Linked DNA regions of Homo sapiens. The protein of the gene in region 1 purifies or fractionates together with the protein of each later gene. This does not show direct contact. Each region holds a gene or a part of one and is shown in the gene's direction. Other genes may lie near its edges.

Region 1 (4,046 bases):
TAGATGAAATATATAACCCTGTATGTTAAAAAAACCATTTCATGAATGCCTACTAGGTACCAGGTACTATTTTAATCACTAGGGTTGCAAAAATAAGAGACAGACGCTTTCAAGATGTTCATAGTCTACCAGGACAAGCAATTACAGTGCAGTGTGATAAGTACCATGATAGAGTCAGTAATCAGTGAGGGATGTAGGAGCCTCATGCATGACCTAATCCATTCATTCATTTGCTTTATTCATTCAGTACACTTCAGAGTTTTAATATGTGCCGGGGATACAGAGATAAACAAGACAGATACCTCTGTCAGCCCCCGATGAGCTTGCTGTGCAGTTCAGTCTCAAAGAGTTTTAACCGTTGGTTACAATGTATTGTTTGATATGGGATCTGAAAGGGGCCAGCAACAAGAGCTCAGAGGAGGACCATAAACCCAAGCTTAGGGACGTTCAGAGAGACAGGAAAGCCTCCCAGAGGAAGCACCATGAGAAGGAATTGGTCGAAGTCTGGGTTGAGGAGAGGGTGTACAGAGAGATGGTCAGGGAGGTGATGCACTGGAGCAACCACAAACACCAGGAGTTCAGTCCAGTGGGGGTGGTTGTGGGCAAGGGCAGGGAAGTGGCAAGAAGTGAGGGAGGAGAAGTAAGGAGGGACTGTGCCTTGTGGGGTCTTGTGATTACTGTTGTGTGGAGTTCGGAGACCTCTGTGGGCAACAGGAAATGGTTGAAGAATTGTAAGCAAAAGAGGGACACGGTCAAATTTGCCCTTTGGAGAATGGATTAGAAGAGGGAAGGCTTGAAGCAGGGAAATTTGAGGAGGTAGAATTGCTGGGATTTGGTCATTGGCCGTGTGTGTGTATGTGGTGGGGGGAGTTGGGGCAGGGAGGAGTTCAGGGCAGTGTCCAGCTCTGGCTGGGTGGTTGGGTGATGGCACTGTCCTTAGGTGGGGACAGAGCAGCATCCATTTTGGGGAAAAGATTATGGGTCACACTTGGCTGGGTTAAGTTTCAGGTGCTGAGGGGACAGTGTGTTCAGTTGGCTGCACTAGGGATCCAGATAATCAGGAGTTGTCTGGATTAGAGAGACGCATGTGAGAGTTATTAGCTGTCCCAGACTGTCTCAAACAGTTTGAGAGTTTCCCAAACTATCAGCTAAGGTGCTACAGCAAACAGGGAGACTGGGGGATGTTTCACATTGTTGAGGAAAACACATAGTTCCGTCTCTTCAAGCCTGTGGAAACTACTAGCTCAAGATAGTTAAAAATGTCTAGATTAGATTGCACTCCATTCCATTCGATGACCTCATGTTTGTAAAGAAGGATTTTTGGTGGTTGCTGTAGCACGTGAAAATCAGTGTAGAAAAGGAAATGAGGGAGGCCATTGTCCAGTCTGACTCCAAGGTTTGAGAGAAATTGTGCAGTGCTCAACAAGTGTACACATACTGTATTAGTAAATACTTGTGGTTATCTAAGAATGAAATAAAAATGCCATTTTTTCTCTCTATTAAAGTGTACTTTTTTCAAGTTGGTACCAAGTTGTTAGGACATTAAGTACTTACGTTTTTAACATTTTCTTTGCTCAATAAGCATTTGTTTTGGCCTGAGACTCCAAGGGTGCGGTGAACAGAGAAAGTTTTGGAACTCCTGCCTTTGCCTGTGCAGTATTTGTTAATGGAAGCTGTTGGAGTAGATGAGGTCATTTGAGGAGTGTGTATAGAGTAAGAAAAGGAGTGGTGTGGAGTGAGATCTGAGGCACTCTTGTGTTTGAAAGGGAAGCAGATAATAGGCTCCCACACTGGGACTAAGAAGGATGGGGGTCATGGTGTCCGAGGAAACCTCAGCAGGCAGGGCGTGCTCAGCTGCTGCGAGCTGTTAGTAATACAGGGGACACTAGAGGCAACAGTGACATGACAGGGATGGGAGGGGGAGGCCAGTTTGTATCAGGATTTAATAGTGAGTGAGAGTGAGGGAGTGGAGCCCAGCATGTGTAGACAGCAATGCTCAAGAAATTTGATGCTGGTGGTTAGGGGTGGTTATAGGGAGGGCAGATAAAGGGGGAACCCTTTGGTTTTTGTTTTTTAAATGGGGGGATTTGAGCATGTTTAAATGCTGGTAAAGAACCAGGAGAGGGTAATTTCAGAGTTTCCATTGGAGTTAGCCCACTAGATAGCGGTTTCAGAGTTTCCATTGGAGTTAGCCTGAGGACATGATGAATGATCTTGGTGAGGAGTCTGTGGAACCTCATTGCTGTGGATTGCAGAGTGAAGGGTGTTGAGGGAGGGAAGCTGGTTCTTTCCCAAACTTGATTATGAAGAGGAGAGAATGACATTAACTGGAGAGGGGCATCTGGTGTAGGCTGATTTCCTCCCCTCCCCTCCCCTCTCCTCCCCTCCTCCCTCCCTTCCCCTTCGCCTCCCTCCCTTTTCTTTTCTTTTCTCTTTTCTTTTCTTTTCTTTCTAGCAGTGACTTTATTTTCTCTTTTTTTTGCTGTTGTCTTAAGAACACCTTTTGTCTTCCTTTCTCAAGACATGCTCTTCTGAGGACTGGTTGTTCCTTTGCAGGGCGGTTGCTTCCCACCCTGGACTTTTCCTAGGTGCCATTGTGTCTCCAGGTCGTGATGTCTTTGTGGCTGACTGTCCTCCTTTGCTGTCCTGTTCTGACAGAATACTCTCTCCTGTCAGTGTTTTTTCTGCTACTTACCTCAGCACCAGTTTTGTGTCAGATCCTATCCGCCTATCTTCATAGATGTTTTTATTTTTATTTTTTGTAGAGATGGTGTTTTGCTATGTTGCCCAAGCTGGTCTTGAACTCCTGGGCTCAAGCAGTCCTCCCACCTTGGCCTCCCAAAGTGTTGCACCGCCCCCGATGTCATAGATGTTTATAGATTATAATAATTTTTCCGCACTAATGCCTGGTGTGGTGGCTAACACCTGTAATCCCAGCACTTTGGGAGGCTGATCACCTCAGGTCAGGAGTTCGAGAACAGCATGGCCAACATGGCAAAACCCTGTCTCTACTAAAAATACAAAAATTAGCCAGTTGTAGTGGCACACACCTGTACTCCCAGCTTCTAGGGAGGGTGAGGCAGGAGAATTGCTTGAACCCGGGAGGCAGAGGTTGCAGTGAGCTGAGATCGTGCCACTGTACTCCAGCCTGGGCAACAGAGTGAGACTCCATCTCAAAAAAAAAAAAAAAAAAAAAAAAGAATAGTTTTTCCATACTTAGATTTCAGCCTTAATCTTTGGAGCCAAAGATGCTTCTGTTTCTTCTCTGTGCCTGCACATGTGCCTCTTCTCTGGGAGATTAGCTCTTCTGACTTTTTTTTTTTTTAAATTTTAAAACATTTTAAACATCACAGACATTCTAGGGTATTTCTCATCTTTTAGGTCTCCTGGAGCTTCTAGGCCTTGGCTCTGAGCTCAGCATCTGGGATGATTTCTCAACTTTGTACTTTCTGAAATTTCCCTGGGATCTTTTCTCAGGGTGCCCTCTGACCTTGGAGCAGTGGTCTTGAAATTGATCTAAAGATATCTTCTGTTGTGTTATATGTTCTTGAACCTTTTTGGTATTTTAATCTTTTCTTCCTTTTAGTTTTTCCTTAAATACTTAAGTCAGCCCACACATGTTTGTATGCCAACTATGTCTGAGGCACTGTTCTAGTTAGCAGTGATAAGAATGTTTAACATGACCAAGCTGCTGCCCTCAGAAAGCTTATATTCAAGTGAGGTAAAACAGGATAGATTATCTTGCTAACTAGTTCACAAACTCCTTGTTGGCAGGAACCACATAGGGTGGTGCCTTGTATATAATCTGTGCATAGCATATGTGTGTTCCAGCTTGTCAGATAACCTCTTGAACGTCGTCGTCATATAGAGACCTTCATTTAGGTTTTGCACTTATTTCACTGTGGTAACACTTGGTGCCTTCTCCCACTGGCTGTCCTCTCACAGCCTTTGTGATCTTTGATCTTGGAATGCTTGTTTTCTAGCAGTTGAAAGCTGAATTGAATTTTTAAAAGTTCCTCTAGTGCATGCTGAAGATTTTATTAGCT
Region 2 (4,046 bases), on another chromosome or scaffold:
GCTAGAATTTTTAAATGTGTTTTCAAGGCCATCTATGCTAGTATTTAAAATAAATGTCATTATGCTAATACTTAAAACTATTAACTATTATTACCATTAAATATTGAAAGGTTTCACCCAGCTATAAGTGTGTGTACTTTGGAAAGTGCGTTTTTTTTTGGGGGGGGTATTTGTGAGTATGTTGTTTTTTTTGTTTTTGTTTTTTTATTTGTTTTTCCTTAAACCAACTTTCTGAGAAATATGTCCATTCTTTAATACTGTCTTTCCAAAGTGTAAGATTCCCTAATAGGGAGTCGCTAAAATGTCTATCTAAATACAGTCTATCAAGCAAGAATTCTGTGACTGATTTTTTTTGGTAACAGTACTTTGATTTGATACTTGTATACAAGTTGGTTGAACATATTACTCTGGTCAGTTTTTAAAGGCTGACTATGGTTAATTTGCATATTTTAGAAGTACATTTTAGGGGTAATACTAGATCATATAGATAAATATTATCACCAACTACCATAGCTAATATTCCTTTCCTTTCTGCAGGTCAATTTTTCTGTGGAAATAAATATTGTGATAAAAAAGAAGGCTTAAAGAGTTGGGAAGTTAATTTTGGTTATATTGAGCATGGTGAGAAGAGAAATGCACTTGTTAAATTAAGTAAGTTGATTTTAGGGGGTATATGATTGATTCTTCCAAGTTTGTCTTTAATTTAAAAATATATAGACTTTAAAATTCAAATGCAATTTTTAACATATCTTTCTGGAAGTGCTCTTTTTTCTTGGAGCTTCCCAAAGTCTCAAAGAACTTTTCAGCCTCAGTTTTTTACATTTTTAGCATTACAGTGGTGTTTCAGTAAAAAGAATTCTAATGTCAAATGTAAACTGGTAATTTGTAGAGTGGGGCTCCGTCCCCATTAACTTGAGAATGCCACCACATTACATAGCTAAGAGGCACAGTATCAGAAAAGGCAGTGTAATCTCACATTAGCTGATTACTCAGTGATATCGTTGTAGCACAGATAATAAACAAATTCACTCTGTTTCACAGTATTAATAAAGAAAAACTTTAGGAAGGCATAATTGTTCTTGACCTCAGTCTTAAAACCATAGGGAATAAATACTCCAGAATACAGCAGTTTCCCTTAGGATGCATGTTTTAGAGTCTGTCATTCTTTTATTTATTTTTTAAGTTAGTCTTCATGTGTCAGCTGTTCCTCTAGCCTTCTCTGGGTCCTAAGTAAATGTGCCTTCAGAGTTTTCTGCTCATACCTAATAAAAGTCAAGAATGTCCCCACATGCTACGTATGCATGTCAATACAGACTGATTTCTGAGTTCCTTCTGGAAGTGCTCAAGAGGAAAAGTCAGCCAGTGTGAACTGAGATTAAGGCAAAAAAAAAAAAAAAAAGAGACCACAATTATGGAACTATTTGAAAAGCTCCTTTGCATTTGAAAGTTCTTAGAGCACTTCAGAGGAAATGACTATACTCACATTATTATTAGATATCTTTGATGTGAGACACATGTTAATGTGCCTGTGGAACACAGTTTGTTTTTGGAACAAATTGACAACACATTTTTCTAAAATAGTGTTATTTTCAATTCCTCAAGCTAATATTTTTATTATATGTATGTGTGTATATATTTGCATTTTTGAGGTGATGAAGGTCAGATTGTTTTCTTTGGATTGTTTGTTTACCCTCTTATAGTAATGGAATATAAAGAAAGTGCGAATTTATGATATTAAAAGTAGATTAGCAGTGTGGTTATTCAAAATCAGCCATTCAGTGGTGTCTTTTCTTTTTAGGGTTATGCCAAGAATGTTCCATTAAATTAAATTTCCATCACAGGTAATGTCTTTTAAAATGCCATTCTTAATGTTTAGTAATCCAGGATATAGTCATTTACCTGCACTAAGTATCTAAATGTAGACTTAGGTGGTTGATGGTTGAATTGGTTGATCATGTAGAAAATGTGGCATTGTCGTATGGCTACATAAACGAGGGGTTTAGAAGTCCGCTATGCCCTATTCTTGCCAAGCAGTTTTAAATGTAAAGGCCTATGTGAGGTGGTAGATGGATGTTAGAATTTTTAGTTTGGAGCCAATGTTCTGACACTTTAATATTAGAAATTATGTTGTAAAGCAGACTTCATAAAGCAGTTCTTGTGTCTCATTTAGACAGTGTTTTAGCTGGAGTTTGCCATTCTTACAAAGGATTAGACACCTCTATACTCATTTTAAATGTTAAAATCAAGAACAGGCGCGGTGGCTCATGCCTGTAATCCTAGCACTTGGGGAGGCCAGTTTGGGTGGATCACTTGAGGTCAGAAGTTCGAGACCAGCCTGGCCAACATGGTAAAACCCTGTCTCTACTGAAAATACAGAAATTAACTGGGCGTGGTGGCAGGTGCCTGTAATCCCAGCTACTGGGGAGGCTGAGGCAGGAGAATTGCTTGAACCTGGGAGGCAGAGGTTGCAGTGAGCCAAGATTGAGCCACTGCATTCCAGCCTAGCAACAGAGCAAAACTCTGTCTCAAAAAAAAAAAAAGTTAAAATCAGGCTTTTATTGAATGAGCTTTAATGTATCTGCCACATTGAATGTGTGGGAATACCAGTGTCCTGCAGTTATGGGGTTTGAAATCAGACCTCAGTTTTTAATCTCAGCTTCTCCGCTTACTAGGCTTCTTCTTGGGCAAACTGCTTAACCTCTGTAAGGCTTAATTTTATCACCTGTAAAAATGAGGCTACTCAGGCTATTGTGGGGAATAAATGAAAGTGCATGTAAAGTGCTTGCCACAGTACCTGGCATTAAAGATGTTCACACTGATTCTTCGCAACTTGCCTTTGTGATGGTCAGGTTTTATGCGCTGGATAACAGTTAAAAGTTCAGCTTTTGCAACTTTATAAAATGTATACATAAGCATATTAATTTTAAAATAGCTTTCTTTTTTTTAATCACATGGGTTGTCAAAAAATAACAGCTTTGTTATAAATGTGCCTATATAGTATTTTAGCTGTTAAAAATAAATGTTAAATAATATTTTTAATTCTTAAAATTAGCAGGATTATTTTTATTATTTTCATTATTCTTTATTTTTTTGAGACAAGGTCTCACTCTGTTGCCTAGGCTGAAGCACAGTGGTGTGATCATGGCTCATTGCAGCCTCAGCCTCCTGGGCTCAAGTGATCCTCACACCTCAGCCTCCAGAATAGCTGAGACTACAGGAGTACATCACCAAACCTGGATAATTTTTTTTTAAAGTTTTTGTAGAGATGGTGTTTCCCTATGTTGCCCAGGCTGGTCTCAAACTCCTGGACTCAAGCAGTCCTCCTGCCTCAGCCGCCCAAGGTGCTGGGATGATAGGCATAAGCCTCCACACTTGGCCAGAACTTTTTTGGATTACTGGAATAGCCTAAACCTTTATTTCCCCTTCCCATCAGTGATACTGAAAGAAAGCAGGGATTTGTTTTGACCTTGACTTTTGAGCTTCATTTCAAAATGGAAATGATTCTTACAAAATATGCAAAAGTGGTTAATGCATTAAATACTATTATAGCATTTAGTAGATGTACTTTAACTTGGAAAATCTACTGAACAAGTTTTTTGAAAGTAATCTTTTCCTTTGTCTCTATTCTCCTTGCCAGTCCCAATTTCAGCATTATCACTTTTTCCCATTTAGTATTTCTTTTCTTAACCTATTAAAATTAATTAATTGTTTGCCAACCTTGTAAACCTGCTCTAGAAGAGATAAAGCTGCAACAATAAGAGTATAAATTATAAGTGGCCTGATGTTGATATATGAATTAACAATAAGCCCTTTCCATTTTCATTCCATTATGCTTCTACTATATTCCTTTATTCTTAAGAGTAGAAATTTCTATTTACTGGTGGCTTAGAGCTGTTCAGCAGTTTCTTCTTCTTTGTGTTTTTTTAACATGTAGGTGGATATGGATTATGTGAAGGGAAATGAGGCTTTTTTTTGTAATTTAGTTTTAAATGGCTAAGTGATAGAATATAGAAAGAAAGAAACAAATACAATTATAATTTGTATTT
Region 3 (4,046 bases), on another chromosome or scaffold:
ATCCAAATAATTACTACCAAAATGGATAAATTCAATGACAGAATTCTTATCTTAGAGGAGTAAATAATTCTATTTGGGGAAATTGGAGAAGGCTTATGGATACACTGAAAAGGAAAACATACTTCTGCTCCCACAGAGTTTGGGGAAAGGAAATTTTGCAGTTGATCCCAGAAGCCTACTTATTTCACCACTGATGACCCAGATTTAAAAATAATCTGGTAGTCCAAAGCAATTTTTTGCCACTGAATATAAACTTCTTGCATAAAATACCAATTATAACAACTCTGATTACTGCTGCAGTGGTACCATGATCCTTCTAACTTTTCTTTCACAGCAATCAATTGATCTGCTGCTTAATTCATATTTATTTAGATTGCAGCCATACAGATGCTTTTTGGGTGCTGCCAGGAAAATTAATTACCTACATATAGAATATAATGTATGTAGAAATGCTTTGACAACCGTAACGTGCTCTGCAAAGAGTTAGATTATTATCATTATTTCTTTTTAAGTCTCACTACAAATAGATAAATTTTTAACATCGTTTATCTTAAAACCAGTACCATGAAAAAACTGAGTCACAGTCTGTTTTTCTTTTTTTAAATCTCTTCAGTTCTTATCCAGGTCCATTTCAAATAATATGTCATTTCATACCTTCACAAATACCATCTCCAATTTCCAGAAGATACAGAGAGATACATGGCTTATATTTTCAGCCAATTAACCTGTCATAGAAAAAAAATTGTTAGGTACCATTGATCATATTGAGAAATACTAAGAAATTAATAAGTATTAAAAGTATTTACCAGCAGCCTCAAAAACATATGCATATGCATATTTATATGTATATGTATGTGTATGTGTGTTAGTATACACTCACCCTTTAACAGTGCTAAAATCCTTTAAAGAATAAAGAATTTGATAGCTCTTTAACTTTTAATTTTTAAGCAAAAGTTTAACACAATAAAAAATGTAGGAAATGCAGACTTGGCCACTTTTAAGTTTTGTGTAATGTATATTTAAACGCACTAACCTCTGCCCTTTTGAAAAGCTATGTATTTGAGTCTTCTTATGTCAGTTCCTAGAAGTCAAGGCAAATTTCCAAGAAAGAAGCTCTAAAAGGTGGGAACAAGGCAAAGATACCAACCTCAGACTATTTTTCTAGGACCTAAGGAGTGCATACAAAAGTCTAGAAACAAAAGTCAGAAACAAATAGGGGCTGGACAGGACTTTGTTCTCTCCTCCAGTTAGCCTATCCCAAGCACAGGGTTTGCATTCAGAATCTATCTAAAGATGAATTTCATACCGCGCACCATGCAGGAAAGAGATGCTAGATGCTCTTCATGCCCAAGCAATTCACACGCTCACTCTCTCACCTCGCCAAATATCACAATATTTACCACCGATTGATGGAAGAACCTCCACAGTCCCTGAGTCTAACTCCCTCACCTTACGGATGAGGAAGCAGGTATACCGACTCTCAGTTTCCACCTCTTCCTTTTACCTCTGCGTCCCACCTCAGTGTCGACGCGCAGTATCTAACCAGAACTCTCTCTTCACTTTCAGGAAATTTGCCCCGCGATGTTCTGTGTGCAAGGAGCCTATTATGCCAGCCCCGGGCCAGGAGGAGACTGTCCGTATTGTGGCTTTGGATCGAGATTTCCATGTTCACTGCTACCGATGCGAGGTCTGGTTGACAGCCCTGCCCTGCCAGTCTGTGGCAGGCGTTGAAAGGCTCGTTCGAGCTAGGTTTACATAGATGTAGCAATTACTAAATCTCAGAACGGCCTTAGTGCCTGTACTCATAGGACTTGGGTTTTAGATTTGACACTAGTATTCCGAGCACATGCTGTTGAATAAGTCACTGTACCTCTCTCAGTCTGCTTGCTCACCGGAAGAAAGGACTCAAGTCCTTAACTCCTCCAAATATGGCTGTGAGAGTGAAATACAAAATTGTATATTAAAGGACATTGTAAATTGTGAAATACTAAATTAGTGAGAAATGGTGTTATTGAACATTTAACTTTGGCTCTGAGGCTTTGGTTAGAACTTCTTGTTCAGAGTCATGGAGATTTATTTATTTGTTAGCATGCACTACTAATTGCTCAGTTTCCTGAACGCCTCTAGAGCTGCAGTATATCTGCATGTTCTTTTCAGTAAAGCCAAACTTCCCGCAGAGTATAACCATTGCTGCTATTGTGTTCTGGATACCCCGTTAACTTAAATTTCATTCTATGTCAAATGAAGACATGAACTCCATTGACCTCCTTGCCACCATGGTAGATAGCAGAGGCGAGGTTCATAGCTGTTGTGGCCTTTGAGAGTTTATACTAAAGTTAGCAAACACACACCTCTTGATGAAGTACTATGTATTTATTTTCCAAAGAAACTTCTATTTTCTCCAAAGACAAAGGCCAGCATTTAACTGTTATATAACACTTTTCAAAATGGACCCTAAGAGGAGCTGTCAGCGGTAGTATATTCCTTTACAGTTATGCAGTTCTTTGCATTTTTTTTTTTGATCCATTATCTTCTTTGATCCTCTTAACAGCTTGGTAAGGTAGAAAAGGCAGAAGTTATTTTCAGAGTGGCAGTCGGCCTGTGTGCATTGAGGCAGACTGTAGCAAAACTGTGGGTGGTGCTCAGGAGGCCTGTCCCCTGGACTAGCAATCTTTGCTCTCCACAATGCTGTCTCCTTTAGAAAGTACAGCAAACCACTACTCCCCACAAACTTTAGGATTTTATTTTCTTACTGCAGTTGAAGTAAATACACCGAACCCACTGGTGGCCCTTCTGCTTGGCAGACATCAGTCTACCTTTGCTCTAGGCCAGAAATGGCCAAAACATTCCATTCCTGTACCTGTGCATGCATTTTGAGAGATCCTTAAACTAATGGTAAAGGGTAAAAAATGCATCGGTGGTTAGGGACATTCTTATTTTCTCTTGTTGAGTGGGGGCAGCAAACTTCTACATGGGAGCCAAGATGGGTGGCCTCTTCTCTTCTTATACCTGTATTTCATATCAAGTGAGCTTAGGAGGATTATATTTATGTCCATTTATATTTATGTCCCCAATCTCTAATTCAATTACATTCAAGATATACTATGTTATATATTGGGAGAAAGGATACAGGGGATTAGCAGAATGTAAAGCAGGAAGGATAGTAAGTGGCCACATTATGGAGGCCTTGAATAGAAAGCTCAATCATGATGTTCTCCACATGTGTACTTAACGTTTTTACTTATGTCGTTTCCATCTGTCTTTACTGTTCTAGGATTGCGGTGGTCTCCTGTCTGAAGGAGATAACCAAGGCTGCTACCCCTTGGATGGGCACATCCTCTGCAAGACCTGCAACTCTGCCCGCATCAGGGTGTTGACCGCCAAGGCGAGCACTGACCTTTAGATTCAGTCACCTGTTCAGCCGGCACTGAGAAGAACGAACACAAGAAAAAGATAAGAAATACTAGAGTAAAGGCCATCAAACTACGCGATAGTCTCTGTTCTTCATCTGCTATTAACCTTGCCTTAGAAACACATAAATTATGAGATTTTTTTTAAAAGTTGTTACCAAATACACATTTCACATTGAATCATGTAGGATCTTGATGGGCCTTTGTTCCCAAGGACTTCCACATTTTTGCACAGATTATGCTCCATCCCATTCACTTCTGCATTCCTGTAACTTTTAATCCCTATGTTTGTCTCACTTTTCATCTGGTTGAATGGCTTTTCTTAGTGTGGTATTTGCTGTCACATAGTTTTTCCTGGGTGAGTCTGCCAACTCACAGGTGCTTTTAGGCTTGAAATCTCCATCCTATCATTTCCGTTTTGCCTGTGACTGTAAAGAGTAGCCATTCTTTTCCCATGTATTGAAGAGGATATTCTTCTCTTGCTTTATACTACTCACGTCCTTGGGGAGGGAAATGCACAATTTTTTTTTGTTAGGCTGTAAAGAATTTAAGCTGTAAATTACATAAGTTAGAACAAGCCCAAATTTAATTTGCAACCATCAGAATTCAGAATCTATAGTGACCAGTGATCAAGGC
Region 4 (4,726 bases), on another chromosome or scaffold:
TGGATTAGCACGCCCCCGAGATGAGCTCTGCACACACACACACACACACACAACACAAAAGCAACTAAAGAAGCAATTTGGTGTGGTGATATTTGTAAAACAGAAGTTGGGCAATGTCTCTAATACTCTTTTTAGGGAAGTGGTTCTATAGTCCTGCCGACAGTAGGTAGCAGCGGGAATGCTGTCCCCGTAGAACAATGTTGTCAGCACCCAGTATGCTTGTCTTTCTGTTTTCTGGGGCAGTGGAGGGGGCAGCCTGACCACCCAAGTCTCAGATCACCCAAACCCTATACAACCACCCAGCACCCATCAATGTCCCCATCAGAGCCCCCCGACTCCACCTCACAGTCTATTCTGATGCTGCAACCAGATCCCACCTGTAAATCATCTAACAAGGAGGTCAGGCAGCTCACTCAGGCTCCCTGGGAAACCTGCCCTGGCCACTGCACTAAGTTGATTTACAGAAATGTCCAGCGCCCCAGAACTTCGGGGCATCACCACTGTCGTTTCAAGAAAGTGTGATGCATGTCCACAGGTTCCAGCCAGGTGAGACTGCACCTGCTAACAGTGGTCAACAGGTCAGCAAAGATTAGGGCCCAGCACCCAGAGGGTCCTTAACCTGTACTTGTGGCCAGGATTGGAAGACTTGCGTTCACGGCTGTCCCTGGCACACAGTACAAGGAATGTCACCAGTTCCCAGGCCCAGCAGGCCTGCAGGGCTAGGAGATGGCAGTGTCCCCTAGGGGCTGGGCTGGGGCCTTCTCCACCTTTCCACCACCATCATTACAGGGACAACTCTGCGAGGAGCTATCCTCATGGCCAAGTCCAAAATCCAGATTTAGTTTTACCTAAATGTTTTGAAATGAATTGGTATAGCAGTTACAGAAGAAATTTATCTGGAGTGGCCACTCCTGATTTTTATTTCAAGAGGTCACCAACCTTGCCATGTATCTGCCAGCAGATGTCAAAGGTGGATGAGCAAGGGACCCGCGGTGCTGGGAAATGGCAGGTGAAAGTGACTTTGTGTTGCCCCATATCTGCCAGTGCTTAGAGAGAGGGCCCTGAGGAGGCGCTGAACTGGCATCAGCTGTGTTGAACAGTCCCCAGGGTGACCCTCCCGGTGGCCCAGGCTTCGTGTGGTCCTCTCCCCTAAGTGCCTTCTTACAACTGAGAGATGGCGGCAAAGGTGAAGGAAGCCACGGCTTGCCCATGTCATCCTGGTTATATAAGACTCGGCACCCTAGAGAGAAAGACTCCCCTGGTGGCTTTGAAAAGAAAACGGCCGTGCTTTGCACTGCCTATGGAGGGACAGGGGTCCGCCAGCAGCTTCCAGGAGCTGAGTAAGGCCCCCAGCCCGCAGCAGAAGGACAGAGACCCCTACACACCCAGCTTAGGGAGAGAGGCCCCTGTGGACACGTGGCCCCTCCGGGGGTTATCCTCCAAGGGACATTCTTCTGATGGGGACATCCTCTGGGGGGATTTCTCTTGGGGGACAGAAATATTCCTGGAAGAGGGGATTCTCTGCGGGGCAGGCATCCTCCGGGGAGAGAATCCTGCTGGGAGGACATCGTCGGGAAGACATCCTTCCTAGGTACCCGGCTCATCTTCCGGGGAGACCGTCCTCTGGGGGGCGGGCAGGCTTTGGGGACATTTTCGGGAGGGAGGATCTCCTAGGGCGGGCATCCTTGCGAGACGGGGTGGGGCGAATCCTCCCGGGTGGGCATCGTGGGGTGGGGGTGGGCGTTCCGCGAGGGGCATCCTCCCGGGCGGACGTTGGGGGATTCTCGGGGGAGGGAGGGGCGCGGGGCGGGCGTCCCGGGGAGGGAGGGGCGTTGCGCGCGGACGCGGGCGGGGCCTGGGCCGCTCCGTCCCCTCCCCCCGCCCGCCCCCCGCGCTTCCTCTGCTTTCGGTTTCGCTTCCGCCTCCAGCGCGAGCCCCGCCGCCGCCGAGCATGGACGACCCCGACTGCGACTCCACCTGGGAGGAGGACGAGGAGGATGCGGAGGACGCGGAGGACGAGGACTGCGAGGACGGCGAGGCCGCCGGCGCGAGGGACGCGGACGCAGGGGACGAGGACGAGGAGTCGGAGGAGCCGCGGGCGGCGCGGCCCAGCTCGTTCCAGGTGCGGCCCCGCGGCGCGGAAGAGGCCTGGGGTCCCCGGCGCCCCCCGCCCGGCTGCGTGGACGGGAGACCCCCCCATCCCGGGCGGAGACACCTGGAGCCTCCTGGAGCTCCCGCAGCCCCGGGGACCCCCCCCCAGACCGGCCGACCCCCAGCCCCAGGGCCCGGCGGGGAAGTGCGGGGGCCGCGCGTGGGTGACAGCGGAGCTGAGCCTCCCGGGCCCCATCGTGTGTGGGCGCCGTTCCCCCCGGGGGTGCCTCGGGCGCGTCCCGCCCCCAGCCGCCGTGGCCGCCCCTGATGGAACCCCTCCCGCCTCGGGCCCGCGCCTCGGCCTCCTGGCGGCCCCTGCGCAGGCCCCGCGGCCTGGGGCTGGGGCTGGGGCTGGGGCTGGGGCTGGGGCCCGGGCCGGGTCTGGCCTGGGAGGCTTCGCGTCTGCACCTGCGGGAGCCCGGGGCGGGCCGACGGGGCCTCCGCTTGTTACTTTTGTTACCGCCGGGCGCCTGTCATCGCCGGGGTTACTTTTGTTGCCGCGCTGGGAACGCCACACTGTCGCAGTCCGGCCCCCCTGTCGGGGAGCTGGGATTGATCTGGGAGCGGCCTTCCAGCTGAGCTGCCCGGGTTGCGGAGGGCCGGGAAGTGCATGGAACTCGACGGCTCCGCATGGATTCTCCCCTTGGCACCCAGCACTGTTTGCGTTTGCGCCTGGCCATGGTGGAGCGGGCAGTGAGAGAGCACGGAGGGGCTCCGCCCTGTCGCCGGGAGGGCAGCGGCCAGGCAGGCTGGGCAGGGGGGTGGGGTCTGGCTCTGTCCCACAGGACGGTGTGACCCCTGGGTGGGCTCTTGACGGGCTTTCCTCACTGGAGTTCCTCAGGCCGCTCTCCTGAAGCGGTGCTCAGAGGCCCTGACCATCCTGCCAGGCGCCCGTGACCCCTGACCTCTTCCCTCTGCCTCCTGCTGTGGCTTCTGTCCACAAGCCCCTCCCCTTCCCCTTTGGACCCCTCAGGCCTCCCCAGCTGCCTGCGCTGGACCCTGGCGGGGCTGTTTCACTTTTTCCTGGGCAGTGTCATGTATGCACCTGTGGGCTGACTGTGTGGCCACATCCAGTCAGGACCCAGCCTCCAGAACTGACCCAGGGAGGCTCCCGCTGGCCCCAGGAAGGAGAAGTAGAAACTGATGATCAGGCGGGGCGAGAGAACCACACCAGCGGCCCTGTTGAGAAATCAGGCCGAGAGGTCGGTGGCGGTGGCTCAGGCCTGTAATCCCAGCACTTTCGGAGGCCTGGGCAGTCGGATCACCAGAGGTCAGGAGTCCAAGATTAGCCTGGCCAACATGGTGAAACTGTTGTCTCTACTAAAAATACAACATTAGCCAGGCGTGATGGGCACCTGTAATCCCAGTTCCTCCAGAGATTGAAGCAGGAGAATCGCTTAAACCTGGGAGGTGGAGGTTGCAGTGAGTGGAGATTGCCTGGGAGGTGGAGGTTGCAGTGAGTGGAGATTGCCTGGGAGGTGGAGATTGCATGAAGCTCCATCTCGAGGGGAAAAAAATAAGAAAGAAAAATCAGGCAGAGAGGCAACGCCAGGTCCCAGCTGGAGCTCAGCGGGGAGCCAGGGGATACAGTGGCTGACCGGGCCTCCTAACCCCCCTTCTAGCACTCCCCCAGGATCCTGGGTCCCAATTGTTGCCCTGGACAAATACGCCCATTCCTGCCCTACCCACCGAGTGAGGCTCAGCCCCAGGCCCCCCACCCTCATCACAAGGTCAGGGCTGTGTCCCACCATCCTCATCACTAGGTACTTCCGGCCCTTTGCTCAGCCCCATGATGCTTGGCCTGCAGAGATGGGGGCTGAAGGGCTTGGGGCATCAAGGGGACCTGACATCTTGCTGAGAAGCCATCACTAGACAGGGCTGGAGGCTGGAGACTCAGGGCCTGCCCTCACCGTGGCCAGTGAGGCGTGGGGTTGGGCAGGGAAGGGGCATTCATTCATTAGACCCTGCCAGAAGCACCTGGGTCCCCTTCTGGGGCTACAGGTGGTGAGGCCACTGCCCCCAAGAACACAGCCTGGTGACTTTAGTGTACAAAGCAGGGGGAGTCTCCAGGGGCACAGAACAGAGGCTAAAGCCAGGGTGGAGGTGGCCAGCAGGCCTAGGAGGAGGAGAGGGTCAGGGCCACACCCCAGGGGAGGTGCATGTCAGCCAGGGGCCACCCTAAGGTGGAAGCCAGGAGTCCCAAAGGGGCCTAGAGAAGGAGCAGCCCCCCACCTGGCTACCGCAGCCCTCTCTGGTTCTGTGCAGGGTATTGGGATGCGTTACTGAGGCCCAAATCTGCCCCACTGGGAACCCCCAAAAAAGAGCCAGGGCAGGAGAATGAGAGGGAGGAGCCATGAAACCCCCGCCCTTTAAAGACAGCTCTGTGGCAGCTGGCCCAGGCCCTGCAGCCCTCACCACGTTGGGACTCACTTGGGGGTCTCCCATGGGGGTCCTAATCCCATCTCTTTTCTTCCCAGTCCAGAATGACAGGGTCCAGAAACTGGCGAGCCACGAGGGACATGTGTAGGTATCGGCACAACTATCCGGTACGTACCTGCCCCTGCCCCGGGACACA
Region 5 (4,046 bases), on another chromosome or scaffold:
ATGAGGTCATTTTGTTCTCTTTGGTTGTTTTTCACGGGAAAACTATGGTCTAGACCCTAAGAAAATTCCTTCTCTCCTTAGCTGTGCATCTGGTGTAGGCTCCTAGCCCTGCTGCAGCCAGTTGCTTTGGAAGTTGCCAGGCTCCTTCACCAGTATCACATTAAAGGCGCCTTCCTCTCCACCAGGTTTAATTCTTTCCTAAATAGGCTATTTGCCCTGAAACACCATCGCTTTCCTGTCAGCCCAGATTCATGACCTTAATCAAAAGCTTCCTTTATCGGTATCTGTTTAAATTGCTCTAACAAGTTACCATTTGTCTGGCATGAAGGAGAAATTGAGTCTTTAAGTAGGAATGAGTTTATTTCACCACAGTCGTTAAGCAGGATGTGATGTTTATTAAAATTCATAATTTATTTTTCTGTATCTGTGTGCTGCCCACCTTGGCCATTAGCGGTTGGAGCTGCCCCTCTTTGTTGTCACTGTCATTTTTTAAACATAGTATATGTATTCTTTTTCTTTTTTTAGTGACAGGGTTTCACTATGTTGCCCACACTGGCCATGAACTCTTGAGCTCAGGTGATCTTCCTACCTCAGCCTCCCAAGTAGCTGGGACTACAGGCACATGCCACTGTGCCCAGCTTGTCACTGCCAATTTTAATCTTGGCATGTTTGTCCCATTGCTGTATTGCCATGTGAAAAATTTTGCCAACAGCCAGGAGACCTCTGTTTCCTCTGTAAAGTTGAATCTTTCTTCCTTGTAATGACTTAATAGTGATTTCTATCAAGTGGAGAAGAAATCTTAAAACCGTACATACTGTTTTGGGCTCTCTGGTAGGTTTTAGGAGGGGAGCTCCCCAGGAGGTAAATGGGAATGCCATCCAGCTTTGGCAAATTCTTATTGAAACTAATGAGTTTAATAGACTGACCTTATTACTCCTATTTACAACCTCATTACAAAATTATCTGCTCAATGTTTGCTAAATTCTTTATCGGTCTTGAGAAGCTAAGCCTCCTGTTTAGTTCCTGCTGCAGCCGTGACAATTGTCTCCCTTTCATATGAAAAGAGTAGCCTCAAAGGCCCCTGAGTAAGAATAAGTAGTGGCTGTGGCAGTCTGTGGACATCAGGAATAATCTAGGGAACTTTGGCTTAAAGCATGTCAAGCTAAGAAGTGGTCTCCTATACCACGTGAATAAAAGAAAAAAATAAGACTTATTTGCTTATCTAGCACACTTCTTGATCTTACAAGGAATTGCCTAGTAGGGTGATATTTTACTCCCATTAACCTCACTCTTAGAACCTGGAAAGGATAATGTACATTAGGTAACACCTTGGGAGGAAGAGTAGGAGGGAAAAATCTTTGTGCCAAAGTCTGGTACTGGAATTTTACACCAGAGTCACCACTGATTTGCTTAGTGAGCCTTCCACTCAAATTTGGTTCTCCCTGTCATTTTTGCCCAGAGATATTCTGAAGACAGAAGGAAACAAAAGATCTCTCTTTGAGATCTTAGGGTGGCAGGAACCCTGTGTGCCCAGGAATGTTATTTGTACTATCTCCGTGCTCATTGTTGGGCCCTCAGGCAAATCTAACAGCCTGGCAACTCTTTAGAGCTGGAGCAAGGGCATACCCTCCTTTGAGAAGGATACCGGGTTTTCAGACTTTTTCATAGGTAGACCTATGAATGTCCAGATTGCTGGTGAAAGGAGTAGCAACTGATTTAGCATTGTAGCTTGTGATTAGTCAGGGCCCTGGATCCCTGGGCTGCCCAAGAGGAACTTTAGGGCTCTGCTTAGGGAGCTGCCCACATTCCTGGTACCACCTGTTTCTGTATTAAGTAGTACAGGTTGAAGGCATGAAAGCAACTGAGTGAAGAGAATCCATACCTTTGGAAGTGCAGTTCTTTAGCATGTGGGCACTCTGTTGCAGAGTGCATCTCTCTCCTCTGCATGGGAGAATAGATGAGAGGCCCTAGAACGGTCTTGAGCCATTTAGAAGGCCTTTCCCCTCAGATTTGCTGCTCTTGGAAGATTTCTCTGGAAAGGAACCAACCTCTTCCCAAGGCTTGGAGTGTTAATCTATTTATTTATAGCTTTTTTTACCCTAATTTTCTTTTTCTTTTTTTTTTTGAGACAGAGTTTAGCTCTTGTTGCCCAGGCTGGAGTGCAATGGCTCGATCTCGGCTCACCGCAATCTCCACCTCCTGGGTTCAAGTGAATCTCCTACCTCAGCCTCCCGAGTAGCTGAGATTATAGGCATGTGCCACCACGCCTGGCTAATTTTGTATTTTTAGTAGAGACAGGGTTTCTCCATTTGGGTCAGGCTGGTCTTGAACTCCTGACCTCAGGTGATCCGCCCGCCTCGCCTCCCAAATGTTGGGATTACAGGTGTGAGCTACCGTGCCTGGACCTTGATTTTCAAACTAATACATTCTTGTGTCTCACAAATGCAGAAAATGCAGGAAAATGCAAAACAAAAGAAATATCAGTTCACCTCTCAGTTTCCATGGTTACTCATTCTTAGTGGTCTGGGTTTTCTGAGTGGCACTCTCTGGCACTCTGTGACGTTTGCCAGATTGGTTCATGTAAGCAAGTCAACTCGATTAAGAGAATTGGACAGCCACCATAAAGGGAAGGGCAGATTTTGTGCCTCTCATACAGGGACATTCTCAACCAAAATTTATCCTTGCTAACTTATTAGAAGCCAGAATTTTGGTTTTAAGTTTATTCTTTCACACATGTTCACCTGTCTTTTCTTTCTTTTGTAAAATGTTGTATCCTTGAAAATGCATATTAACCTTATCTATTAGATTTTTAAGCTCTCTAAGGGTTGTTACTTTTGCACAGTACCCCATTATATGTAGCATGATCTTTTATAGAATAGGTGCTGAACCAGTATAGTAGTCTGATCTTTTAAACGGTATCAGTGTTCTGAACTATGACAGATGTCCTAATTCAACCTACTGGTGGGGAAGCTAAATCATAGCCCAGGAGGGCTCCGTTCTCTGTTAAGATATAGAGATCCCATTCTCATCCTTAAACTTCTGAGGCCTGAACAGCTTGCACTATTTGTAAGAGGAAATGTCTCAAGGAGTCATATACTCTGTAGGTCCTTAGGAAAGTGATACTTGGCTGACACATCTTTACATTTACTACAGTAATCATTTAATTAATTTCTATTAAATGGAAAGCCTCAGTCCAGGTGTTGGGTACAGACTGTGACATAGTTCCTGCTCTCCAGGAGTGACCCTGTCCAATGGGGACAGCAAGTGGCAAACAATAACTGGCTCTAAGGCAATGTGATGAGTGCTGTGCCAATGACACTGGTGTTACTGGAGCACAGTGGAAGGGATAATCAGTTAGGCCTGGAGTGCTGGGGAAAGCTTTGTTCTTCTTGAATGTCAACCCTTAGCAGGTTTTGGTTCTGGTAGGGAAATGGATGGATCACTTAAGATTGGCTTCAGAATTATAATGTATTCTTCAAGTTAGAAATACCTGAATAGTGACCACCTCGGGTCTATTAAAAAATGTTTTACACACTGCCGTCTGTGACTTTCCTTCAGTACTTCTCACAAGCAGCCAAGTTTTGAATCAACACCCTTTCTGAGTGGTGTCCCTTCTTCTTCAAAGGAATTATGCCACATTGCTAAGTCAATATTTTCATATTTATTTTAAATTTTAATAGATAATATATTCACATGGTTCATAAGTCAAAAAATATAAAAAGATAGCCAGTGTAAACTTTCGTGGTATAAAAATGTAAATCAAGTTTCACTTTTGCTTTCACTAGTTCCAAGTAATTGTTTTGGTATTCTGTCTCCAAATGCTAACCCCTGAATGTGTGAATAATCACTTTTATTGGTCTTCTTGTATATCGTTCCTTCCAAAAGCTCTTTTTGCAATTATAAGAAATAAAAATGTTAGCCTTATAATGGAATCGTTGAAAATGGAATCAGGCATCAGTGTTTGGATATTGATGTTCTAATAATAACCACCAGCAGCAGAAATAACAATCATATCTTCAGTAAATACACTTTATATTTGACAATGT
Region 6 (4,046 bases), on another chromosome or scaffold:
AGTGAATGTCGTTTAGAAGCAGACCAAAGTCCGAAAAATTCTGCCATCCTACAAAATAGAGTTGATTCACTTGAATTTTCATTAGAGTCTCAAAAACAGATGAACTCAGACCTGCAAAAGCAGTGTGAAGAGTTGGTGCAAATCAAAGGAGAAATAGAAGAAAATCTCATGAAAGCAGAACAGATGCATCAAAGTTTTGTGGCTGAAACAAGTCAGCGCATTAGTAAGTTACAGGAAGACACTTCTGCTCACCAGAATGTTGTTGCTGAAACCTTAAGTGCCCTTGAGAACAAGGAAAAAGAGCTGCAACTTTTAAATGATAAGGTAGAAACTGAGCAGGCAGAGATTCAAGAATTAAAAAAGAGCAACCATCTACTTGAAGACTCTCTAAAGGAGCTACAACTTTTATCCGAAACCCTAAGCTTGGAGAAGAAAGAAATGAGTTCCATCATTTCTCTAAATAAAAGGGAAATTGAAGAGCTGACCCAAGAGAATGGGACTCTTAAGGAAATTAATGCATCCTTAAATCAAGAGAAGATGAACTTAATCCAGAAAAGTGAGAGTTTTGCAAACTATATAGATGAAAGGGAGAAAAGCATTTCAGAGTTATCTGATCAGTACAAGCAAGAAAAACTTATTTTACTACAAAGATGTGAAGAAACCGGAAATGCATATGAGGATCTTAGTCAAAAATACAAAGCAGCACAGGAAAAGAATTCTAAATTAGAATGCTTGCTAAATGAATGCACTAGTCTTTGTGAAAATAGGAAAAATGAGTTGGAACAGCTAAAGGAAGCATTTGCAAAGGAACACCAAGAATTCTTAACAAAATTAGCATTTGCTGAAGAAAGAAATCAGAATCTGATGCTAGAGTTGGAGACAGTGCAGCAAGCTCTGAGATCTGAGATGACAGATAACCAAAACAATTCTAAGAGCGAGGCTGGTGGTTTAAAGCAAGAAATCATGACTTTAAAGGAAGAACAAAACAAAATGCAAAAGGAAGTTAATGACTTATTACAAGAGAATGAACAGCTGATGAAGGTAATGAAGACTAAACATGAATGTCAAAATCTAGAATCAGAACCAATTAGGAACTCTGTGAAAGAAAGAGAGAGTGAGAGAAATCAATGTAATTTTAAACCTCAGATGGATCTTGAAGTTAAAGAAATTTCTCTAGATAGTTATAATGCGCAGTTGGTGCAATTAGAAGCTATGCTAAGAAATAAGGAATTAAAACTTCAGGAAAGTGAGAAGGAGAAGGAGTGCCTGCAGCATGAATTACAGACAATTAGAGGAGATCTTGAAACCAGCAATTTGCAAGACATGCAGTCACAAGAAATTAGTGGCCTTAAAGACTGTGAAATAGATGCGGAAGAAAAGTATATTTCAGGGCCTCATGAGTTGTCAACAAGTCAAAACGACAATGCACACCTTCAGTGCTCTCTGCAAACAACAATGAACAAGCTGAATGAGCTAGAGAAAATATGTGAAATACTGCAGGCTGAAAAGTATGAACTCGTAACTGAGCTGAATGATTCAAGGTCAGAATGTATCACAGCAACTAGGAAAATGGCAGAAGAGGTAGGGAAACTACTAAATGAAGTTAAAATATTAAATGATGACAGTGGTCTTCTCCATGGTGAGTTAGTGGAAGACATACCAGGAGGTGAATTTGGTGAACAACCAAATGAACAGCACCCTGTGTCTTTGGCTCCATTGGACGAGAGTAATTCCTACGAGCACTTGACATTGTCAGACAAAGAAGTTCAAATGCACTTTGCCGAATTGCAAGAGAAATTCTTATCTTTACAAAGTGAACACAAAATTTTACATGATCAGCACTGTCAGATGAGCTCTAAAATGTCAGAGCTGCAGACCTATGTTGACTCATTAAAGGCCGAAAATTTGGTCTTGTCAACGAATCTGAGAAACTTTCAAGGTGACTTGGTGAAGGAGATGCAGCTGGGCTTGGAGGAGGGGCTCGTTCCATCCCTGTCATCCTCTTGTGTGCCTGACAGCTCTAGTCTTAGCAGTTTGGGAGACTCCTCCTTTTACAGAGCTCTTTTAGAACAGACAGGAGATATGTCTCTTTTGAGTAATTTAGAAGGGGCTGTTTCAGCAAACCAGTGCAGTGTAGATGAAGTATTTTGCAGCAGTCTGCAGGAGGAGAATCTGACCAGGAAAGAAACCCCTTCGGCCCCAGCGAAGGGTGTTGAAGAGCTTGAGTCCCTCTGTGAGGTGTACCGGCAGTCCCTCGAGAAGCTAGAAGAGAAAATGGAAAGTCAAGGGATTATGAAAAATAAGGAAATTCAAGAGCTCGAGCAGTTATTAAGTTCTGAAAGGCAAGAGCTTGACTGCCTTAGGAAGCAGTATTTGTCAGAAAATGAACAGTGGCAACAGAAGCTGACAAGCGTGACTCTGGAGATGGAGTCCAAGTTGGCGGCAGAAAAGAAACAGACGGAACAACTGTCACTTGAGCTGGAAGTAGCACGACTCCAGCTACAAGGTCTGGACTTAAGTTCTCGGTCTTTGCTTGGCATCGACACAGAAGATGTAAGTACCTGGGATTTAAATGCCATTTCTCGGTTTACATGACTAGTGGACACTCAGTAAATGTTTGTCTAATTGAAATGTACATTAAACCTAAGTTAAAATATTTTTAGGGTTCAAGGAAATAAAATACACCAAAATATTTTCAAAACAAACCAGAACTTGAGGAAAATGAGTAAACGTTATTTGAGGAATAAATTTCTATAGGGATTAGATTTACATAGCATTATATAGAATATTACTAAAGATGTTTTTAAAGTCTGGAGAAAATTATATTATGGAGTCAGAAAGTCTTTAGAATGTGTGTTTCCACCCTTTGTGCATTAATAAAGTATACTGAAATAATTAAGAACTTACAAATGGTAATATGTAAATTTTTAATCTCTCCCACTTTTCAGACTATTTTTGATGTTATGGCATTATCGTCATGAAACTAAATACAGCAGATTCTTTATGTATTACTAAACAGTTTTCTCTCTAACAATTTACTGTGGTACAAAAATATGATTTGGTATAAGTCATTTAAAAGGGCTTTTAAAAAATTGAATACATATTTGTTTAATTGCTTGTAACTTTGTCCTTTCTAGCCTGCTAGCTTAATTAATAATGCTATATAGTGTATGCATGTCACTTGATTTCCTCTGTCTATCTCTGTGAGGTAGAGAAGGCAGGTCATGGTGAGGTGATGGCAGGTGTAGGTGCAACAGCAGATCCCCAGTTTACAGATGAGAGGAAAGTGAGGCTCAAATATGTAATTTATCCAATAATGTACAGTAAGTGCTGGATTGGGGATTAAGTCCTTGGACTGGGAATCTGGTTATGAAACTTTACTGCCTTATTAAAGAGTATCATAAATGCTGAAGGTGGAAGCTGAGCATTTTGTTAGCCTCTTATTTAATAATTACAAAGAGATTTCATATTTAGGCTACCTGAATATTCTTAGCAAGGGAAAAATATGAAATTTAAATACATTACAAATTGTAATTGAGCCGAAGGGTTTGTCTTCAAGATAAATGCCTAACCCCAGTGTCTTGCCCATAGGGGCCACTTACTGAACGTATAAGTATGTTGAACATTTGAATGAAGAGAGAAAGATGTAGTGGGAAATTCACCACTTTAAGAGATGTGTTTAGCAGAGGCCACGCATCAGTTTCTAAAAAGTAATAACTAAATCTATTCTATTTTGATTCTTTTTGAAAAATAAAATGCATGCTTGTTATGTATTATAATTACAGGCTATTCAAGGCCGAAATGAGAGCTGTGACATATCAAAAGAACATACTTCAGAAACTACAGAAAGAACACCAAAGCATGATGTTCATCAGATTTGTGATAAAGATGCTCAGCAGGACCTCAATCTAGACATTGAGAAAATAACTGAGACTGGTGCAGTGAAACCCACAGGAGAGTGCTCTGGGGAACAGTCCCCAGATACCAATTATGAGCCTCCAGGGGAAGATAAAACCCAGGGCTCTTCAGAATGCATTTCTGAATTG
Region 7 (4,046 bases), on another chromosome or scaffold:
GTTCCGGATGAAGGTCCCACTGCCCTAGAGCCCCCTACGTCGATACCTTCAGCTTCACGTAAGGTATCTTGGTCTGCTGGAAAATGAAAAGACCCAGCTGCTTTCCTAAATCTGCCATAATCACCATTAGTGAAAGGTGTCTTGTAACTTAATTGCTTTCTTTCAGGTGGCTTTTTTTTTTTTGTCTGTTCGCCATGAAACCCTTCTTTCATACTTTCTCCCTCACCTTCCAAACAACAACAACTAGGTATCTAACAGCTAATCAGTTCTGTTTTTGCCTCTGTTGCTGACTGGTGTTGGGTAAACACGAGGCTGCTGGGTCAGCCATGTGCTGTTGAAATGGTTGCTCTGATACTCACATTAAAATCCGTTTGATCAGTAGTGAGCAGTTGATTCTGTTTGATTCTTCTGATTAACCCCAGTTGGTGTCTCCTAGATCTGTCCTGCATGTAGGGCTGTGGCTTCTCACCTTGAGCTTCTCTGCACATCGTGGGGCAGCCTCACAGATGACCTACTCATGCGCTTCTCCTTCTCTTCCCCCTCTCACTGGTCCTTCCCACAGGGCTCCAGCGGGGCCCCACAGACGAGCAGGATGCCTGTCCCCATGAGTGCCAAGAACAGACCCGGAACCCTGGACAAACCCGGCAAGCAGTCCAAACTGCAGGATCCCCGCCAATATCGTCAGGTAGTTTTACCTTAAACCCACTTTTGGATGGACGCTATTTCAGTTAAGCAAGTCACTGACTTAGTTTATACCAAATATTGTGCTTTCTTTGTAAGATAACGGTTTACATAGACATCCTGGATCTGGGGGCATGAAGAAAGTCTAAATAAACCTTTGTTACACTTTTTTACCACGCTTTTGCATGCTTGCAATAAAACATCTTTTACTTTGTGACTCCAAACTCCAAATTTTAACTGTTAACACACGGTGCCAGACCAGGTGGCTTTTCTTTGGTGAATGTAGTGTTTCATCTGAACACCTCGGGAAGCAGAGACAAACCAACCTGTGGTTGAACTGCCCTTAACGTCACCACTACTAACGTCTATGTTGACTGTATTGTGTTAGAAGCACATTAACACTCCGTCACAATGCCCGACCCCCACCCCAGTAATTATCCAGACGCATGGCCCACCTGGCACACAGGAAATGGTAGAGCTGGAATGATGGGACTCCTCTCACAAATGTATTCTTCCTTTCCTCCTTTCCCGTCCATCCTTTGCTATGTACATGGGGGGTTTCTACCAGGTCCAGTAGAGCACAACAAGACTTAGCTCAGGCCTTGAACTGTGTTTGGTTGGTTTTCTTTGATTGAATTATTCTCAGAAGGGCTGTGTTGCCAGGCCCTGTGGGTTGATCATGTGACCGCCTTTCTGACAAAATGTCTCCCGCCATCTTTATTTGCAGGCTAATGGAAGTGCTAAGAAATCTGGTGGGGACTTTAAGCCTACTTCCCCCTCCTTACCTGCTTCTAAGATTCCAGCCCTTTCTCCCAGCTCTGGGAAAAGCAGTTCTCTGCCCTCTTCTAGTGGTGACAGCTCTAACCTCCCTAATCCACCTGCTACTAAACCATCGATTGCTTCTAACCCTCTCAGCCCCCAAACAGGACCACCTGCTCACTCTGCCTCCCTCATCCCTTCTGTCTCTAATGGCTCTTTGAAGTTTCAGAGCCTCACTCATACAGGTAAAGGTCACCATCTTTCATTCTCACCGCAGAGTCAAAATGGCCGAGCACCCCCTCCTTTGTCATTTTCCTCCTCCCCTCCTTCTCCTGCCTCCTCCGTCTCACTGAATCAAGGTGCCAAGGGCACCAGGACCATCCATACTCCCAGCCTCACCAGCTACAAGGCACAGAATGGAAGTTCAAGCAAAGCCACCCCATCCACAGCAAAAGAAACCTCTTAAAGGTCAAATCCTATTAGGCACAAGTCGGAGTTACATTTAAAAAAAATTAACAGTCTACAACAACTGTTTTCACAAGAGAATGTAACATATTGCTGTATCGTTTGAGGCTTAATGCTAAATATGTGCTAAATACTGGATTAATAGATTTCAGTAAAGCTCGTTCGTTTTGTTTGGTTTTCTTTTTACCTAGTTGCTATAGTGTCTACAGTCTATACTCAATACCTATAAAATGCAGTAAGCATGTGTTACAGAAAGAGGTTCTGGTGGGAGAGAAAGGTGCGTGTGAGACAGGAGAATTGTCTTAAGCATATAAAACATGTATGATTCCAGAATTTTAGTATGTTTTGTATAAAACTATTTTTCATTACGGAGACTAGAAGTGAACAGAGAATTACACAAGTGTGACTATACAAATTGTAAAACAGATACTATAATATTTCCTTTTATTTTAGTGTTATTTAGCTTTATTACAGATTTCTATTTTTGTCAAAACTTCATGGTTCCTTTCAAGATCTTTTTTGCCAAAACATTTTGATACTATAGCATTGTACATTTGAAAGTAGTGTTCTAGACTATAAAACCAATGAACTTCTACATGAGCCCTACAGACAGGCATGTGTAGAAGGCAATTTATCAAACCTATTGCACTGCCATGAAAAGTGTGTATAATAATTTGCTAGCCCAAGCAAGCTAGTTTTCTTTGCTTGCTTCTTTTCTTTCTTTTTTCCTTCCTTTTTTTTTTTTTTTTCTTTTTTAACATGTTGAGATTCTCTAGTTGTTTTCTTTGGCGTATCTAACCCCTTCTTTTGTTTTCTGAGACCTGGTAACCCACGCTCTTGCATTGTGGATTTTAAAATGTATACTCTGTACGGTTCTGTAAACCGAAAAACTTTTGTAAATATATAAATATACATAGACATAAAAATACTGTATGTGACAGCACATAGAGTAGTTTTCCCACACCAAAGTTAATTTTTATGCATGCTTTAAAAGTATATATCGGGACCGGCAGAAATGGAAGTATCCATACATTTTTAAAAAGCAACAAGTTTGCACAGCTAGAGTGTTTTTGTAAATAAATGTATTTGTATAACACAGTCATGTAATATACAGAACTATAAGCAGAGACTTTGCAAAACTAAATAAAGGGCTGCATGCTTATTATTTTTTGTACCTTGTCACTATAACTACTTCCTAGTCAAAGAACGAAATGTAACTGTTACCGAGTTAAATGTTTTTCCGCTTTGAGGGATGTAACCACATCCACTCAGAGGACACTACTTTTCTGAAAGCTCTGGGGTGACTAATGATGAGTTCCTAATAAATTAATTGCAAGTGTGGTGCCTTGGATGTGGCCTGTTGGCTCGCTTTCTTCTCTGTGGCTTATCAAGGTGTAGATGACAGAAAGCAAACCTGGATACAGAGTTTCCACCCTCAGTTCCTGGAGGGGCTCTTATTATTTTCTCTCTTTTTAAAAAACTTCCAGTAGAAGTAAAGTGGAAATAAAATGTCTTTATCACTTGGCTTTTTTTCTTTTGAGTCCTCAACTTAAAAAATTATTGTTGGCCTAGAGGGAAATACGCTTACACCATATGTTTTCATTTGTTAAAATGGGAAGAAGCCAGGCACGGTGGCTTATGCTTTGTAATCTCAGCATTTTGGGAGGCTGAGGCAGGAGGATCACTTGAGGCCAGGAGTTCCAGACCAGCCTGCGCAATATAATGAGACCCCATCTCTACCAAAAATAAATAAATAAATTTAAGTTAGGTGGGCATGGTGGTGTGTGCCTGTAGTCCCAGCTACTCAGGAGGCTGAGGTAGGAGGATGGCTTGAGCCTGGGAGGTGGAGGCTGCAGTGAGCTATGATCACACCACTGCACTCCATCCCAGATGACAGAGCAAGACCCTGTCTCAAAAAAAAAAAAAAAAAAAAAAGGTGTGGGGGAAGAAAATTAGTGAAAACAATACCAGGATTATGAATTAACCACAGGAACAATCTCAGGAAACTACTTAGATTTTTCACCTCAGAATGTTTCATTTGGTGATTTCATGTAAAAAGCAAATATTTTTGGAACTCAGTTGTTCAGTGTTTCTGAGTTTCAGGCTTTCTTACTTCAGGATGCCTCCGCCAGAAATATTCA

Evidence for each region.
Region 2: the proteins of WASF3 (region 1) and FRA10AC1 purify together in Homo sapiens (affinity purification with mass spectrometry; one large-scale study listed by BioGRID and IntAct). This does not show direct contact.
Region 3: the proteins of WASF3 (region 1) and LPP purify together in Homo sapiens (affinity purification with mass spectrometry; 2 studies listed by BioGRID and IntAct, with this or other methods). This does not show direct contact.
Region 4: the proteins of WASF3 (region 1) and OGFR purify together in Homo sapiens (affinity purification with mass spectrometry; one large-scale study listed by BioGRID and IntAct). This does not show direct contact.
Region 5: the proteins of WASF3 (region 1) and CMTR1 purify together in Homo sapiens (affinity purification with mass spectrometry; 2 studies listed by BioGRID and IntAct, with this or other methods). This does not show direct contact.
Region 6: the proteins of WASF3 (region 1) and CENPF purify together in Homo sapiens (affinity purification with mass spectrometry; one large-scale study listed by BioGRID and IntAct). This does not show direct contact.
Region 7: the proteins of WASF3 (region 1) and KIAA1217 purify together in Homo sapiens (affinity purification with mass spectrometry; one large-scale study listed by BioGRID and IntAct). This does not show direct contact.

Annotation. Positions count from the first base shown.
Region 1 is NC_000013.11:26,560,480-26,564,525, forward strand, and holds part of WASF3 (actin-binding protein WASF3), read left to right. Parts: intron 1-4,046. UniProt on the Homo sapiens protein: Downstream effector molecules involved in the transmission of signals from tyrosine kinase receptors and small GTPases to the actin cytoskeleton. Plays a role in the regulation of cell morphology and cytoskeletal organization.
Region 2 is NC_000010.11:93,681,851-93,685,896, reverse strand, and holds part of FRA10AC1 (protein FRA10AC1), read left to right. Parts: intron 1-537; coding exon 538-651; intron 652-1,798; coding exon 1,799-1,841; intron 1,842-4,046. UniProt on the Homo sapiens protein: May be involved in pre-mRNA splicing.
Region 3 is NC_000003.12:188,871,077-188,875,122, forward strand, and holds part of LPP (lipoma-preferred partner), read left to right. Parts: intron 1-1,566; coding exon 1,567-1,687; intron 1,688-3,274; coding exon 3,275-3,403; 3' UTR 3,404-4,046. UniProt on the Homo sapiens protein: May play a structural role at sites of cell adhesion in maintaining cell shape and motility. In addition to these structural functions, it may also be implicated in signaling events and activation of gene transcription.
Region 4 is NC_000020.11:62,802,909-62,807,634, forward strand, and holds the start of OGFR (opioid growth factor receptor), read left to right. Parts: upstream 1-1,926; 5' UTR 1,927-1,951; coding exon 1,952-2,122; intron 2,123-2,559; exon of another isoform or gene 2,560-2,679; intron 2,680-4,628; coding exon 4,629-4,697; intron 4,698-4,726. UniProt on the Homo sapiens protein: Receptor for opioid growth factor (OGF), also known as Met-enkephalin. Seems to be involved in growth regulation.
Region 5 is NC_000006.12:37,439,307-37,443,352, forward strand, and holds part of CMTR1 (cap-specific mRNA (nucleoside-2'-O-)-methyltransferase 1), read left to right. Parts: intron 1-4,046. UniProt on the Homo sapiens protein: S-adenosyl-L-methionine-dependent methyltransferase that mediates mRNA cap1 2'-O-ribose methylation to the 5'-cap structure of mRNAs.
Region 6 is NC_000001.11:214,640,772-214,644,817, forward strand, and holds part of CENPF (centromere protein F), read left to right. Parts: coding exon 1-2,553; intron 2,554-3,785; coding exon 3,786-4,046. UniProt on the Homo sapiens protein: Required for kinetochore function and chromosome segregation in mitosis. Required for kinetochore localization of dynein, LIS1, NDE1 and NDEL1.
Region 7 is NC_000010.11:24,544,419-24,548,464, forward strand, and holds the end of KIAA1217 (sickle tail protein homolog), read left to right. Parts: coding exon 1-63; intron 64-562; coding exon 563-685; coding exon of another isoform or gene 686-700; exon of another isoform or gene 701-1,408; coding exon 1,409-1,906; 3' UTR 1,907-3,425; downstream 3,426-4,046. UniProt on the Homo sapiens protein: Required for normal development of intervertebral disks.